Linked DNA regions of Homo sapiens: regions 2 and 3 are each linked to region 1. The links come from fine-mapping of genetic effects on gene expression. Tissue or cell type: whole blood. Region 1 holds a variant in brackets; each other region holds the start of a gene. All regions are shown on one strand. Distances are from middle to middle.

Region 1 (6,083 bases):
GGGTGAATCACCTGAGGTCAGGAGTTCGAGACCAGCCTGGCCAACATGATGAAACCCCATCTCTACTAAAAATACAAAAATTAGCCGGGCAAGGTGATGCACGCCTGTAGTCCCAGCTACTCAGGAGGCTAAGGAAGAAGAATCACTGGAACCCAGGAGGTGGAGGTTGCAGTGAGCCAAGATCGCGCCACTGCACTCCAGCCTGCATGACAGGAGCGAGACTCCATCTCAAAAAAAAAAAAAAAAAAAAAAAGGTAAGTGAGATCACTTCCCTCCTCTCCTTAAACCCTCCCCTGCCTCCCCATGACTCCTCAGCGTCCTTTCAAAGGCCTCCAAAGCTCCAGATTATCTGAACCCCCTTTACCTCTCTGACCTCATCTCCCACCGCCTCCCTGTCACTGGCTGCACTCCAGCCACATTGACCTTCTCCGATGGCACACCAGTCAGCTAGTCAGCTTCCTTTTGGAGCTTTTGCATGAGCTGTTCCTCTTCCTGAAGAATTTGCCCTTCGGATAGTCTCAGGGCATCCACTGAACACTCCACTCAATACAGCCACTGCCTGCCCACCCAACACTCCTCATCTCTGTACTTACTCTTTTTTTCCCTTGCATTCGTCACCCCCTAACATGTGCTACAATGTACTTATTATGGTAATTATTTCTTGCATGTTTCTTTCTTTTTTTTTTTGAGACAGGGTCTCACTCTGTTGCCCAGTCTGGAGTGCAGCAGCATGATCTCAGCTCACTGAAATCTTGGCCTACCTGGCTCAGGCCATCCTCCCTCCTCTGCCTCCTGAGTAGCTGGGACTACAGGCACTCACCACCATGCCTGGCTAGTTGTTGTACTTTTTTGTAGAGATGAGGTTTCACCATGTTGCCTAAGCTAGTCTAAAACTCCTAGGCTCAAGTGATCCTCCCGCCTCAGCCTCCCGAAGTACTGGGATTGCGGGTGTGAGCCGCTGTGCCTGGCTGCACTTTTCCTTCTAATGGAATGTAAGCGCCACTTTTGTCTGTTATTTTCACTGTAGTATCCCTAGCCTTTGGAATGTTGCCTGGCAAGTAGTAGGTACTCAGTAAATATTTGTTGAAGAAACGGATGATTCTATAAATAGCATGGATTGATATGGGAAAGCTATGTAGGTGGATGGATGGATGCTTGTCGGATGGAGGGTAGATGAAAGAACAGCGAGAAATTCGAATGGCTAGATGGTGGGGATGCATTATAAAATAATAATTCATAGATGGAAAAGGAATGAATAGATGGGTGGAGGGATTTAATCTCTTCAACTACTATTTACTGACCACTTGCCGTGTGCCAGGCACTGTATGAGGTGCTAGAGACACTGGTGAGCCACACAGGCAAGGTGCCTGTCCTAAGGGAGCCTGTAGTTCAGTGGGTGAGGCAGACACTAAACAAATAACAAATACATACATAATTCCAATTATAGTTAAGTGTTCTGGTGGAAAAGAACAGGATGCTCTGGGAGAGAATAATATGGATAAGTGATGGAAAAATGGACAATAAATGGGTAGATGGAGATGGATAGGATCGGGGTTATTTGCCTTAAAGGGCCTGGCTTCAGGACTGGAGCTGCTTTACCTTAAAGGGCCTGTCGGACCACATGTACCATCCCACATCCCAGACCAGCTCTGCACTCAGAGACTGTCCCTCTCTCCCTGCCCTGACTCAGCACCTGCCTGGCCTATCCCCAGTGGTCCTGCCTGACTCTACCTCCAGCTCCCACCCTGCTGAGTCACAGTCAGGCTGGTCAGGGGGCTGTCCCATGTTCAGTCCAGCCCCTCAGCCTTCCTCGACCTGGGGGGGTATGGGGAGCAGCCCAGAGGGGAGGGGAGCAGGTGCCAAGCTCTTGATTCCTGTGCCTGAGCACTGCCCTGTTGAGACCAGAGAGAGAATCTATGGCTAGGGTATCTGGGGCTACAGTTGGGGTTTATCTGGGGCCTGGGGTCACACATGATGGATTAGAGCTAAATCTATCTCCAGGGTTATAACTCAATCAGGAGCTAGAATTCAAATTCAGTTTATGGATCATGTGGGGAAAAAGTGACCAAGACACCGTTCAGTTTGGGACCTGGGTCGGCGTTAGCTGTGGCTACGGCCCAGGGCTTAGTGATCACAGGTCAGACCATGTTCAAGGTTTCAGGCCAGAGTGCAGTTGAAGTGCAAAGTCAGGCAATAGGGTTCACCCTAGGACCACAGTCAAGGATCTGGGTCAGTTAGTGTCCAGGGCACTGGCCTTGTCTCCTCTTCTTTGGGAGAGAAGCCAGGTGGATGAGTTGGATCTAAATGTCCTGAGGAGCAACTTCCAGCTCAAGTTCCTTCACCCAGGCGGCCTAAGCCCTCTCAGCACTGGCCCCAAAGCCTTCCTTCATCCCTCAACTTCCTCCATCACTCCCTGACAGCCTGGCCTTGCTCAGTGTCCCTCGCAAGGCTGAACAGTCCTCATTCTGGCACCTCAGGGGACAGGGTAGGGGTGGGGACTATGGGACAGGGCTCAGTGCTGGACCCAGGAGGGCGCCTTGCGCAAGGTTTTCTGATGCAACTGGCTGAGTGCTTC[A/C]GCATTCCACCCCCACCCCCCAAGCTTTTCTCAGAAAGGCAAGGCCTGGGCAGTTATCCAGACTGAACATATAATCCCCTTCCTTCTCTGGCCTTTGATGGCTTCAGGACCTGCAGGCAAAAGGAAGGCAGGAAGGCAGGCAGGAAGGAAGGAAGGTCAGGTGACTCAGCAATGCGTCCAGCACTGGGAGCTGGCAGATCTGGGGCTCCCTCATCCTCCAGCTGAGAGGCGAGAAAGAGAATCAGGATCCCTGGAAGTTTGGAGATCCTAACCCCTTATACATACAAAGCAGCAATTATGTGCCTAAGCCCAGGGAGAGACCTGTAGCTGCCCAAGGTCAGAGGCAAGGTCAGAACCAGACCAGCTGTCTTCAGCCCATGGCTATGATCTAGCTATTTCCACTACACAGAAAGAGAGAACCCTTCACCCTTGAGGAGGACACGGGACTTCCCCAGGAACCTCCCGTCAATCCTGTTGAGGCTCCTGAAATGGTGGAATGACGTGGACTTTGGAACCACGCAGACCTGGGTTTAAATCCCAGGCCAGGCACGGTGGCTCATGACTGTAATCCCAACACTTTGGGAGGCTGAGGCAGGCAGATCACTTGTGGTCAGGAGTTTGAGACCAGCCTGGCCAACATGGTAAAACCCCATCTCTACTAAAAATACAAAAACTAGCCAGGCGTGGTGGCACACGCCTGTAATCCCAGCTACTCAGGAGGCAGAAGCGTGAGAATCGCTTGAACCCGGGAGGCGGAGGTTGCAGTGGGCTGAGATCATGCCACCGCACTCCTAGGTGAGAGTGAGACTCCGTCTCAAAAAGCCACACTGGCTAGCTGTGTAACGCTGGGCAGGTTACTTTCACTCTTTGACACTGGATTTGCTCACTTGCAAAGTGGGCGTAAATGCATCCTTAGCTCACAGGGCTGTGGTGAGGCTGACATGAGGAAGCACTGGAAGGCACAGCTTAGGCTCCACATGGGCCACTCTCAGGAAGTGTGTCCCCACCTCCCCCTTTATCCTCAGCTCTCACTGGGTGTGTTTGCTGGGGAAGGAGGTGCAGCAGCCCTGGGGCCTTGGAAATAATAATAGCCACTCACCCTCCAGTGCTTACCATGTGCTGGGAACTCTCCTAAGCGTGAACTTAACCTGTATTAGCCCATTTAACCCTCCATTTAATCCAATAACAGTTCCCAGGCCAGGCATGGTGGTGCATGCCCATAGTCCCAGCTACTCAGGAAGCTGAGGCGGGAGTATCGCTTGAGCCTGGGAGGTTGAGGCTACAGTGAGTCATGATCACCCTACTGCACTGCAGCCTGGGCAACAGAGTGAGATCTTCTCTCAAAAGAAAAGAAAAGAAAAGAGGGAAGGAAGGAAGGAAGGGAGGGAGGGAAATCCCAATGACAATAAGCAGTTCAATAACCCTACAGGAAAACACTGTCATCAATCCCACTTTATAGATAGGGCTGTGGGTCTGAGTAGCTAAGTGACTTTGTCCAAGACAGTGGACAAGAGACCACACGGATTTTGAGCCAGGCCAGCTGGCTCTGAATCCCACTGTCTCCTCCCTCCTTAAACTAGTGATGTCACTGCTCTGAGCCCTGGTTTCCTCATCTGTCTCCAGGGATAAAAATAGCAGCTTCATGGGGAAGTTTGAGGATGACACAAGATGACGTAAGGGAGGTCCCCACACAGGGCTCCACCCACAGGCATGAGAAGAGCCTTTCTCAGGAAGAATCCCAGGCCGCCCCTGGGGCAACCGCCGGGCTGGCCTTCCTGCCTCTCCTTAGGCCCAGCCTAGCGTGATCTGGATGGTGAGAGATTTCTGCAAAGCCCCCAGGGGCCTCCAGAGAAGGGAGGTGCCCGGTCTCCTAGATAAGGGCTCCCAGAGAGGATCACAGCCCTGGAGTTGCCATTCTTGAATCACCCACTGTCTTCCCCAAGTTGATTGGTCTGAATCCATGTACTTATTTTTTATATTAGTTCCATAATGTCTTCCTTCCAACCAGCTCATCTTTTACTTATTTATTTATTTATTTATTTTATTTATTTTTTTATACAGAGTCTTGCTCTGTCACCCAGGCTGAAGTGCAGTGGTATGATCTCGGCTCACGGCAATCTCTGCCTCCTGGGTTCAAGCGACTCTCATGCCTCAGCCTCCCAAGTAGCTGGGACTACAGGTGCATGCCACCACGTCCAGCTAATTTTTGTATTTTTAGCGGAGATAGGTTTTTGCCATGTTGGCCAGGCTGGTCTCAAACTCCTGACCTCAGGTGATCCACTCACCTCTGCCTCCCAAAGTGCTGGGATTACAAGCATGGACCACTGTGCTTGACCACAACCACCTCATTTTAAAAAACTTATCTAAATTTATTTAACATGGAAATTTTAAATCACTGACCTCAAATAGAAAACTACTATGATTTGCCATAAAGAAGAGGTAAGCATACAATTACATACAAAAAAAGCAGAACCAGGTTATTCCATTCCAGCTAAATCCTGTTTCTTGCTGAAGGCTCCAAGCTGAACTCTGCTGTCTCATTCTTAACAAGAGAGGTGTTAAAAACATAGAAGCTGTGAGGCCGGGCACGGTGGCTCATGCCTGTAATCCCAGCACTTTGGGAGGCCGAGCGAGTGGATCACGAGGTCAGGAGATCGAGACCATCCTGGCTAGCACGGTGAAACCCCGTCTCTACTAAAAACAATAACAACAACAACAACAATCAGCCGGGCGTGGTGGCGGGCGCCTGTAGTCCCAGCTGCTTGGGAGGCTGAGGCAGGAGAATCGCTTGAACCCGGGAGGCAGAGATTGCAGTGAGCTGAGATCATACCACTGCATTTCAGCCTGGGTGACAGAGCAAGAGCAAGACTCCGTCTCAAAAACAAACAAAACAACAACAACAAAAAAAAAAACCATACAAGCTGTTGGCCGGGCGCGGTGGCTCACACCTGTAATCCCAGCACTCTGGGAGGCCAAGGTGGGTGGATCACGTGGTCAGGAGATCAAGACCATCCTGGCCAACATGGTGAAACCCTGTCTCTAGCAAAAATACAAAAATTAGCTGGGTGTGGTGGCACACGCCCATATTCCCAGCTACTGGGGAGGCTGAGGCAGGAGGATGGCGTGAACCCGGGAGGCGGAGCTTGCAGTGAGCTGAGATCACGCCAGTGCACTCTAGCCTGGGTGACAGAGCGAGACTCCGTCTCAAAGAAAAAGAAAAAAAAAAAAAGAAGCTGTTAAATGAGACTTTCTCCCTGAGTCTTTGGAGAAACAGCAAGAAAACTGAAAGGGTTTAAGTGTATCACAATTATGATTCAAAGTTATGTCATACGGTATCTGGAGACCCTAAAACCCTCTGGCACTCAGCCATTGTTGTACATGGTATATTTCAGAAAACACTGACCTCACTGACCTACTCCAACTTTCTCTTCTTATTTTACAGATAAGAAATTTGAAGCCCCCGCAAAGGGAGGTGACTTGTCCACAATCTCACAGGCTCAGTGGCTTC
Region 2 (5,541 bases), 36 kb after region 1:
TCAAAATCTAATTTTCTTTTTGAGACAGGGTCTCACTCTGTCACCCAGGCTGGAGTGCAGTGGGACGATCACTGCTCTACAGGTGCACGCCATCACACTCGGCTAATTTTTGTATTTTTTGTAGAGATGGGGTTTCACCATGTTGCCCAGGCTGGTCTTGAATTCCTGGGCTCAAGCGATCCACCTGGCTTGGCCTCCCCAAGTGCTGGGATTACTGGCATGAGCCACTGTGGCCCATCAGTAAGATCTAATTTCTATAAAATATCAAGAAGAGGAAAGTCTATAGAGACATAAAGTATATTAGTGCTGTCAGTTGGAGGATGGGAAACAGGGAATGTCTGCTAATGAGTACAGGTCTATTTTGGGGTGATAAGAATGTTCTTTCTTTCTTTTTTTTTTTTTGGTCTGAGACAGAGTCTCGCTCTATCACGCAGGCTGGAGTACAACGGTGCGATCTCAGCTCACTGCAACCTCTGCCTCCCAGGTTCAAGCCATTCTCATGCCTCAGGCTCTGCAGTAGCTAGGATTACAGATGTCCGCCACCACACCTGGCTAATTTTTGTATTTTTAGTAGAGACAGGGTTTCACCATGTTGGCCAGGCTGGTCTCGAACTCCTGACCTCAAGTGATCCGCCCACCTCGGCCTCTCAAAGTGCTGGGATTGTAGGTGTGAGCCACCATGCTCAGCCAAAAATGTCCTAAAATTTGATTGTGATGATGGGTGTACAATTCTGTAAATGTTACTAAAAACTATTGAATTGTATATTTTAGGTGGGTGGATTTTATGGCATATAAATTATATCTCAATAAAGCTGTTTATAAAAAGAACAGCAGTTAGATTGACAGGTGATGATATCTCAATAAAGCTGTTTATAAAAAGAACAGCAGTTAGATTGACAGGTGATGATATCTCAACAGCAACCATTTCCCAGCATTTTGGGAGGCCGAGGTGGGCAGATCATTTGAGCCCAGGAGTTCAAGACCAGCCTGGGCAACATGACCAAACCCTGTCTCTACAAAAATTAGCCAGCTGTGGTGGCACGTGCCCGTGGTTTGCAGCTACTCGGGAAGCTGAGCCCAGGAGTTGGAGGCTGTAGTGAGCCATGATCACGCCACTGCACTCCAGCCTGGGCAACAAGAGTGAAACTCCATCTCAAAAAAAAAAAAAAAAAAAAAAAAGGCTTCCCCAGGCCATTCAAATGTACAGCCAAAGTTAAGAAACATTGTCTAAAGGGATGTGTTTCCGGCAAAAGAAAAATTATCCCAGATGAAGGTCTGAGGTTCATTCCTTCATTCAACATATGGAGCCTCCATTATGTGTTTGGAACTGTTCTAGACACCAGGAACACAGCAGTGAGCAAAACAAACCAAAGTCCCTGCCCTCTAGGAGAGGAAAACAGACCCAGAATAACATAAATAAGTAAAACATGCTCCGTTAGACAGTAATAGATGCTGAGAAGAAAAAATGAAGCCAGGAAAGCGGATGTGAAATGCTGGATACGTGTGTCTGTGAAATTTCAGATGGAGTAACTAGGGAAGATTTTTGGGTAAAGACCAAAATAAAGGGAAGGAGGGAGCCATGCAGACGTTTGGGTTATGGCAGGTGCAAAGGCCTTAGGGCGGGAGTGTGTCTGACTTACTCCAGGACCCAGCAGGTCAATGGGACTTGAGTGGAATGAGGCAGGGGCAGGGCAGTCAGCTACGAAGACAGAGATCGGGAGGCAATTTGCGAGCCCTGGGACAGATCTCGGATTTTGCTTTAAGTGAGATGGGAGTACTTGGGTCGGGGAGTGGCATGGGTTTGATTTACATTTTAACAGGACTCTCCGGCAGCTAGGTGGAAATGGACGGTAGGGGGCAAAAAGAGAAGCAAGGAGGCCCAGGAGGAGGCTGGTTCAAGACCCCTGAGATGATGGAGCACTGATGGAGCTGGAGCGGGATGGGGCCGGAGGAGGTGAGGGATGAGATTCTGCAAGTGGAGCCCGCAGGATCTGCTGATCGATGGGACGAGGAACGGGAGAAAAATTAAAGCGGCGCATGAGGCAGACGAATGCAAACTTCACCAATAGCTCAACGAAAAGACAGACGGTGACCGCTGAGAGGCAGCGTCGGATCTGGGTAAGGGCGGGTTCCTGAGCCTGCCAGGCCTGGATTCAAACCTCGGCTGAGTGGCCTTGGACAGGTCATCAACAAACAGAGCCTTCGTTTATTCATGTGCAAACGGGGCCAAGGACCGGGCCTGCCCCGAGGTATGCCTGAGGCTTGGGTGAGCAGGCGCCGGGCTCGCAGGGCGCGCTCCTAACCCGTCCCCAGCGGCTCGACGCTGTGGATCCCGCCGCCCTCCAGCCCCGGCTCCGGCGCCGACTCCTGCTCAGGCTCCTGCTCCTGCCCCCGGCCCCGCCCCCGGCCCCGGCCCCGGCCCCCGGCCCACCCCGGCCCCGCCCCCAGCCCCCGGCCCCCCCGGCCCCGCCCCCGGCCCCGCCCCGGCCCCGCCCACCCCGCCTGCGGCCCAGCTCCTTCCCGCGGCTCTGCGATGCGGCCCGCAGGGTGACCCGGGCGGGAGTCCGGGGACCCGCGATCAGCCCCGGAGGACGGGGTGGGGTCGCCCCAAACAGGAGCGCCGGGACCGCTGGGACCCCGCACTCGGCGTCCGCCGCCGCCGGGTAGCCGGGCAGTGGAGGTCCCGGATGAGGCGACAATTTTTCCGGCCCCCCCTCCCAGTCCCGCCCCACTTCCGGGGCCGCCACTTTCACTTTCTCTTCCGCCGAAGCCGCTCCCCTTGCGAAGAACTGGGGCCTCCCGGGAGGAGAGAGGGCTTTGCCTTGAAACCCGGGACGCCAGGGGCGCTCCCGCAAGTGGGGGTCCTCCGGGACTTGGAACGCCCCGGCTGGGTGGTGTCCGGGCGTCCTTTCCCCGCTTCTTCCCACCTCGGCTGGTCCCGTTTCCTCCTGCGCCCAGTGCGGACCTGTCTCGGCGCCCGCTGCCCTCTCACCGCCCCACGCAGGATCCCGGCCTGGTCACCGGGCAGTGTGATGCTTCCCGACTGCCGCGGGGACAGCGAGGCACACACAGGGCTTGGGCCGCGCCGGAGGCCACACGGCCTGGCTGAGTTGCTCCTGGTCTCCCGCCTCTCCCAGGCGACCCGGAGGTAGCATTTCCCAGGAGGCACGGTCCCCCCCAGGGGGATGGGCACAGCCACGCCAGATGGACGAGAAGACCAAGAAAGGTGGGCACAGGCTGGAGGTGGCTGGGGAACTTCCGGTGGGAAGTGGGCCCCGCAGGACCTGGCCTTGCCCCTGGCCAGAAGGGCCTTGGAGAGGGGGCTTTAGCCTGCCCTCCCTCTACCCTCCTCCCCATCAGTTTCCTCCTTTGGTACCTGCTGGCTTCCAGAGCCATCTTGGGGCCCTGAGAACTCCTTGGGCTGGCTCTGTGCTGAGATGGGGCTAGGGGACTCGCAGAGGACACAGGGCATTGAACTTGGAGACCTCCTGGGCTGGTGGGAGACAGACGTCAGTTGACCTGAGAAGCAGGGGTACTTGCCTCTTCTCTTGTCCCCTGCACCTAGGGTTGTAGAACGGAAGTCAGTCACTGCCTTGCTGGAAACCCTCCCATGCCCCTCTGTGTTCTCCAAACAAAACCCAGAGGCCCTGGGTGGCCCACAGGATATCTGTCCTCAGTCACCCCGCCATGCTCACTCTACTGGAGCCCCACTGGCTTCCTTCGGTTCTCATCCAACCATTTTTTGGCCAAGGCCCTTACTCTTCCTTCCACCTGGACCACTCTTCCCCACTGGAGCTTGACACGTGCAGCTTCTCCTCCTTCAGGTCTTAGCTTCAGTGTTACCCCCTCCCAGAGGCCTCCCCTGGTCTCCTTAACCTGTTTATTTCCCTGCCAGCAAGGATCGCAATCTGACTTTTTTTTTTTTTCTTGTTAAACTTGTTCATTGTCTCCCCACTGGGCAGGGAGATCCATAAGGAGAGGGGCCCTGTTTATAAATCTCTGTGGGATTCCAGTTCCTGGGACAGTGGGTGGCACACAGTAGAAGCTCAATAACTGCTTGTTGGATAAATGAATAGAAATATGAGGGACCCTGGGAATGGGAAGGACAAACAACCAAATGAGCCTAGTGTGAGGAGGAGTGGGGAATATTAGAGAACCCCTCCCGGAGAAAGGGACTTTTAGTCTGGGTGCTGAAGGATACGTAGGAGTTCACCAGGAAGACAGAGAAAGCAGCACACACAAAGGATCGCCTCCTTTCCTACCCCATTACTCTCAGCTCCTGAAAATAAACCCTGTGCTAACTGGCTCCTGCTGTACTGGCTTTCAGCAGAGGAAATGGCCCTGAGCCTCACCCGAGCAGTGGCGGGCGGGGATGAACAGGTGGCAATGAAGTGTGCCATCTGGCTGGCAGAGCAACGGGTGCCCCTGAGTGTGCAACTGAAGCCTGAGGTCTCCCCAACGCAGGACATCAGGTGAGGAGTGCATGGCTGGCCTGAACCCAAGGGACAGCAGGACAGGATATTCTTGCCTGTAGAACAGTTCTTCCTAATGGCACGTTCTGGCTTCAGGAGGCCTGGCTTCTAACCCTAGTTATGTCATTAATCAACTGTGAAATACAGAGCAGGTCACTTCACCTCTCAGTGTGTCCTCATTTTAAAAATCAGACCGTAACAGTAGCTATCTCATAGGGTTGTTAGGAGGTGTACTGTATTAGGATGTTAGGCCTTATACAACAGAAGAAAACGGAACAGTGACGTAAACAAATTTGATGGCAGGGAGTCCAGATAGGGAGGTTCTGCTCCCGACAGTCCTCAGAGGCTCATATTGTTTCTCTCACCATTCTGCCATTCATTCCCAGATTCCTCATGGTGCAAAATGGCCATTCCAGCTCCATCCAGCCATCACATCACAGGAGGAAGGGAAGAAAGACACCCCTCCACACTCTTCTAAAGAGCATAGCTCAAAAATTGTACACACTTCTTCCGTTAATTCCTGTGGACCAGAACTGATTCCCACAGCTACAGTTCAGCTTGAGGGGAGACTGTATAGCCAAGATATTCAGCTAGAATTCAGGGGTTCGCTTGGTAAGGGAAGGGAAGAGAATGGATACTGTCGGTCTGTGCTCCAGGAGACTTAAACTCAATGCTGAAACACTTTGCACAATGCCTGGCGTGTTATGCACTCAATAATAAACATTAGTGTCTATCGTTATTTTTTGACTGCTTTTTCATTACTGGATAGTAAGGCAATAGTTTTATGGTTTCTGATTTTTGGTTCTCTTGGTGGGTCCCATTTGGTTTTTCTTAAAACAGTTTTATTTATTTATTTATCCTTACAGTTCGACCATTTAAAGTATACAGTTCAATGGCTTTTAGTATATTCAAGGTTGTGCAACCATTGCCACAATCAATTTTAGAACATTTTCATCATCCTGTAAAGAAACCTGGTACTCATTAGCAGCCAGTCCTCATCTCTCTACCTTTTCCCTAACTCCCCAACCTTAGGCAACCACTAATCTACTTTTTATCTCTAGGGATCTAC
Region 3 (5,541 bases), 89 kb after region 1:
TTAAATGTCAGTGGCAGATGGAGAAAGCACTCCCACGTGTGCCACTCTGACAAATACTTTATTCCAACTAAATGTATAGGCTCTCACTGTGACATAAAAAGGGAAGAGGAAACAGAAAATTCAAGTGAGCTAAAGATGTATGAATTACAGAGTGAGATCAACTGCTAGACGACACAGGGAGGGAGTTAGCAGCGTCTCCACTGAAAGACAAATTCACAGACATCCTGTTTATTTCCGAAAGAGAAACATCATAGAGCTATTCTTGGGATGTTCAGGAAAAGATTAAAATAAATGCCTATTATCTATTGTATTTCGAGATAAACTTTATAGATTTAGAGCAGGACACACATTTCTGGACTTGAGAACGCTGTATCTGGCTTGGAATAAAAGCCCACATTTCATCTAGAGGTAGAATGTATGTCATTCTAATCTCCCTCAATCCTTTCTTCTCCAATTTCTTTATTGCCCCACTTACAAGATAGTGCACTATTATTCCAAAGCTGATACCTTCCAAATTCCTTTATAGTAGAGGTCTTGGCTATCATAACCATGATGGAACGAATGACCGTCCTACAGCTGGCTGCAAAATATAAGACTGCTATAAATAAATCCCTGATGCCTGAAAAGTAATTCATTCAACAAAGGAAGATAGGTATGACTTTGGCCTACTCTTCATTAGAACGCTTATTTTTATTTATTTATTTATTTATTTATAAAGAGGGCAAAGCAGACTTTATTTGAGGGGCACCACAGCAATAGGTATAGCAACAACTGCAACAGGGTTTTGTAGTCAGGGAGGGAGATCAGACTCAACTCCCTAAAATGCTAATTTTAACAATGGGACACTTCATCTGAACTGTGGTTCTTAATGGTTCAGATAAAGATGACACAACCCACTATTGGCTTAAACTTCTCCCAACTCTGGCTACAGAATCCAGGTAAAGATTTCTGCCCCCTCAGAGTAATAGGCATGTCCAAAATCACCTGGATTAGGGCACTTAATACACTGGGAAGGGACGATAACAACTAAAGATGACCACTATCCATGCCTCCTCTAAAAGTTTTTTCATATATTTTTTCATATCACCAAAACAAATACTAACTTGGATCAACTAATTTATATAATGGAATCTCGTGTGAGCGTACAAAATTCCATACTGATTATTTGGTTTAAGCCTGCATTATCATAAAGGCTTTACAGTCTTTAAACTGAAATTAAGCTCAAATTAAGAAATGCTAGTCTTAAAACAATGGAAGGGGGGGGCCGTTTTGTGTGGAGGGAGGGAGACAGACATACCCCTACACCCACCCACAACTACTGATATTGACATTGGAAATTAACTTGAAAATTTATGCCTGTAGTCCCAGCTACTCAGGAGGCTGAGGTGGGAGGAGCACTTAAGTCCAGGAGTTGGGAGATGACAGTGAGCTTTGACTGTGACACTGCACTCCAACCCGGGTGACAGGGCAAGATCCCATCTCTCAAAAAAAAAAAAAAAAAATGCTTTAACTCCACGTCTGTACCAGAAGACCACAGCAGGAGAGGAAAACCTTATTTCAGTCTGGGTAAGAGTTCTATTAAACACAAAATAAAACAAACTAGCCTCTGTTTCTGGAGGTCTTCATTAGTAGTTTCTACAAAACAGTATCCAAATTAGCAAAGATTCTGTTAACTACCTGGAAAAAGCAGGTACCAAGAAAGAATGTTTCACTACAATGGAAAAAAACAGTCTAGTAAGTAAACCAATCTGACTATAAACGCTACAAAAGAGGGATTCTAGCATTAGTAACTTTGCCAACAATACTCTGATATGATTAAAAAACAAAACAATAACAAAAACAAAAAACCTCATCTTTAAATTTGTCCCATTCATCCAGAGAAGCAAAATCAAGGAAACTAGAGGGGGTAAAGTCTTGCAACAGATACACAGCTGCACTGCCAACAGGTCACAAGACCCATGCTGCCTAGGGCATTGACTGTTATGCCATGAGGACAGACATCACACAAACACCAGTAATTAAAGGGTTACGGTGCCAAAGGGTTCAGAGCTCCACTTCCATTCAGTATCAGAACATAAGAAAAAGGGAAAAACAGAAAATGAGCCCAAATAAAATATAAAATAAAATATAGATACCAGGAGCTTCCTCAAAATATGTGGGTTGTATTAATAACGTGTTTGGCTCTGTTACGGGCACCATCCATCAGAGGACTGGAAATAGGGAAAGTCACCTTAGTCTTCCTCAAGGAAAAAAGATTATTTAACTTGGTTCACGGTGTACATTCATAATTTTAACTGTCATGTATTTATTGAATGAAAAACATTTGAGAACATCATGTGCAACAAAAACATGATTTCACAGAAATTGTCCAAACTAAAAGAGTATAAAAATAGAAGCGCTTTTTATACAATTATTTACTTATTATTATTATTGAGATAGGGTCTCCATCTGTCACCCAGGCCGGAGTGCAGTGGCGCAATCATAGAGTAGCCTCTAAGTCCTGGGCTCAAGCGATCCTCCTGCCTCAGCCTCCAGAGTCGTTGGGATCACAGGCTCGAGCCTCCACACCCGACTAACTTTTAAAAACTTTTTGTAGAGATGAGGCCTCGCTGTGTTTCCCAGCCTGATCTCGAAATCCTGGCCTCAATCGATCCTCCAACCATGGCCTCCCAAAGCGCTGGGATTACAGGCGCGAGCCATGGTGCCCGGCCGCTTTTACACAATTGAATAACATTAAAATAGGTGGCAGAAGACAGACAGAAAGTCGATTCGTGGTTGCCAGGCGTCGTGAATACCGGGGAACGCGGAGTGCCTATTAATGGGTAAGGGTTTCGTTTTGGAATCAGACAGCGGCGATGGCTGCACAACTTTGTGAATTTTCTAAGAATCACTGAACTGTGCACCTTAAAGGAAGAACTGTGTGGTAATTACATCGGCGGTACGCGGGCAGCGCGTCAATCAAGCCGGCGACGGTGAATGCAGTTCGGGAGAGCTGATACCCCTCGGGGAGGCGGCTCCGGGAGCCTGCGGACGTGGCGGACGCCTGGGACGGGGTGGGCCTGGCCTCCGCGCTCGAGGAGTCCCAGTCCTCTCCAGATGGAAGAAAGCCGGGGCGCGAAGCCGCCGCCCGCTCTTCTGCCTGGGGACGCGACTCTGCCGCCAGGCTCCCTCGGGTCAGCTCGGCACCCGCCCGAGCCCCCCCAGTTCCAGGCCCTCTCCTCATCAGACGTGCCCTGGGCCCTCAGCCTGTTCCTCTCGCCGCCCGGAACCCCGCAGCAGCCCCGGGTCCCCAGCCCGCGCCCCTCCGGCGCCGCCTCCGCCAGCTGCCCCTGCCCCCCGGGCCGCCCTCGCAGGCCGCTCCCGGCGCCCCGGTCGGCTTCCGTACCTGCCTTCTCCGCGCCGCCGTCCCAGTGGCCGGAGGTGGGGCCGTCGCCCTGCGCACTCCGGAGGGCCATGCCCCGGGGCCCCGGGCCCCCACCCGAGCCCCGGCTGGTGGCGGAGCCGGGAGAAGACGCGGCTCCGACCGCGGGACGTAGCACCCGCTCGGCATCGGCAGGCTCCCCTCCGTCGGCCAGCGGCGCGCAGGCGCGCAGGCGCCCCGCTGGCCCCGCCCCGCGCCGGCACGTGACCCTGCGCTACGCCCGGCCGGCGGCGGGGGAGGCTGCGGAAAGAGCGCGGTGAGCGCTCTGAGGAGTTGGCTTCGTCTGCGCTGTAGACTCTACGGTGTAGAGTGTGGCGCTCTTGAGCGAGTGTGCTCGAGACCAGCTGTCGTTTCCTTTGCTTCTTTCATCTGTAAAATAGTATTGATGATAATAAAAATATTGAACTCACAAGGTTATTGAGAGTGTTTAGAACATCACCAAGCATATAGTAAATACTCCACAATTATGACCAATTTTTGCTTACCAAGGATTATTTTTTTACCTCCTGTCTCGTCTCCCCACACGAACTCCTGTCATCAGTTCTTGGGTACTTGGGGATCTAGCAGGTTCATGTCATACGGGTCCGCAGGTTATGCACTGCACAAGGCCTGGGAGCGCCATTTACGTAGACGTTCACGTGAACCGTGCCCCCTTAAGTTGTGCGAAATAGTGGCCACTCATCTAAAGCAGCGCTCTGGCTTATCAGGTCTGATTTCCTTCTCGTCTTCAGTGATATTCCTTTCTTTCCAATTAGACATCCATTCCCTTGGTTATATCCCTGATATTGTGATTGTGGCCTCCCGAATTTCTAGTGCTAGGTCTTCATGCTGAAGTTCCCATAATTCCAGTTGCTTGATGACTCTCTTCCACCTCCCACCCCCAACCACAACAGTTCTTTATTATCCTGAGACCTCCAGCCCATGAAACTCCTGACCTCGTGATCCGCCCGCCTCAGCCTCTCAAAGTGCTGGGATTACAGGCGTGAGCCACCGCGCACAGCCAAGTTTTACAGTTCTATTCATAAATCTAGTAAATTATATCAGTTATTTGGTCCCATTAATAAACTAAGCTAATTAAAATCCTTTGAACATTTGAAACTGCATTTATAAATTCAATTCGTTTTTCTAAGTATCACAGGTTTCTAACAAAGCCTTTCAAGTCCTTGTGTAATTCTTGTAAATGTAATACATTTATAAGAATACTGAGTCATGAGTGCTTTCAAATGTGTCAATACAAACGAGATTTCATCTTAAAATCAAAAGTCTAAATCTATTCAAATACATATTTGTAATTAGTACAAGAATAATCTGTTAGAATTCTCAAAATTATCTTTTTTTTTTTTTTGAGACAGAGTCTCACTCTATCACCCAGACTGGAGTGCAATAGCGATCATAGCTCACTGCAGCCTCAAGCTCCTGGGCTCAAGCTAGCCTCCTGTTGCAGCCTCCCGAGTAGCTGAGACTGTAGGTACACACTACCATGCCTGGCTAGTTTTTTTAGTTTTTATAGAGGGGGTGGGGAATCTCCCTATGTTGCCCAGGCCGGTCTCAAACTGCCTTCGCCTCCCAAAGCTCTGGGATTACAGGCGTGAATCACAGTGCCAAGCTCTTGAAATTATCTTGAACATTATAGGAATTTAAAGTATCACATTTACACAGATGCCTTAATGCAAAATTATTAATACTAGAAGTTTGAAAACATTTCTAGTCTTTGTTCTAAATCATCTGTGAGGCTCATGCCTGTAATCCCAGCACTTTGGGAGGTGAAGGGCTGCAGATCACTTGAGGTCAGGAGTTCAAGACCAGCCTCACCAACATGGTGAAACCCCATCTCTACTAAAAATACAAAAATTAGCTGGGCATGGTGGTGCCTGCCTGTAATCCCAGCTACTTGGGAGGCTGAGGCAGGAGAATTGCTTGAACCTGGGAGGCAGAGGTTGCAGTGAGCCAAGATTGCGCCACTGCACTCCAGCCTAAGAGACGGAGTGAGACTCCATCTCAAAAAATAAATAAATAAAATGAAATAAATCATCATTGAGGTTAAAAGATGCTTAGTGCCCACTGAAGGAAGATTTAAGTCATCCCAGTTTAAGAGTAACGTGCTCAAGCAATTTGAGATA

Evidence for each region. PIP is the estimated chance that this variant, and not a neighbour inherited with it, causes the effect.
Region 2: it holds the start of RBCK1, and the variant in region 1 is fine-mapped to the expression of RBCK1 in whole blood (TOPMed, PIP above 0.99).
Region 3: it holds the start of TBC1D20, and the variant in region 1 is fine-mapped to the expression of TBC1D20 in whole blood (TOPMed, PIP above 0.99).

What each region holds. Positions count from the first base shown.
Region 1 is chr20:369,428-375,510 of GRCh38, forward strand. No RefSeq gene overlaps it. Among named protein-coding and RNA genes, the nearest start is that of TRIB3, 8.3 kb to the right of the region's middle. The variant A/C (reference allele first, on the strand shown) is at 2,576.
Region 2 is chr20:405,554-411,094 of GRCh38, forward strand. It overlaps RBCK1 (RANBP2-type and C3HC4-type zinc finger containing 1), which reads left to right and starts at 2,746. Exons shown (of 12, transcript NM_031229.4): 1 at 2,746-3,226; 2 at 4,328-4,472. The coding sequence starts at 3,205. RefSeq lists silencers at 464-620, 2,444-2,713 and enhancers at 2,691-3,333, 3,284-3,333, 3,334-3,974, 3,384-3,483, 3,544-3,643 and 1 more.
Region 3 is chr20:458,951-464,491 of GRCh38, forward strand. TBC1D20 (TBC1 domain family member 20) reads right to left here and starts at 3,583. Exons shown (of 8, transcript NM_144628.4): 1 at 3,386-3,583. The coding sequence starts at 3,455. RefSeq lists silencers at 2,966-3,114, 3,183-3,672, 3,953-4,022.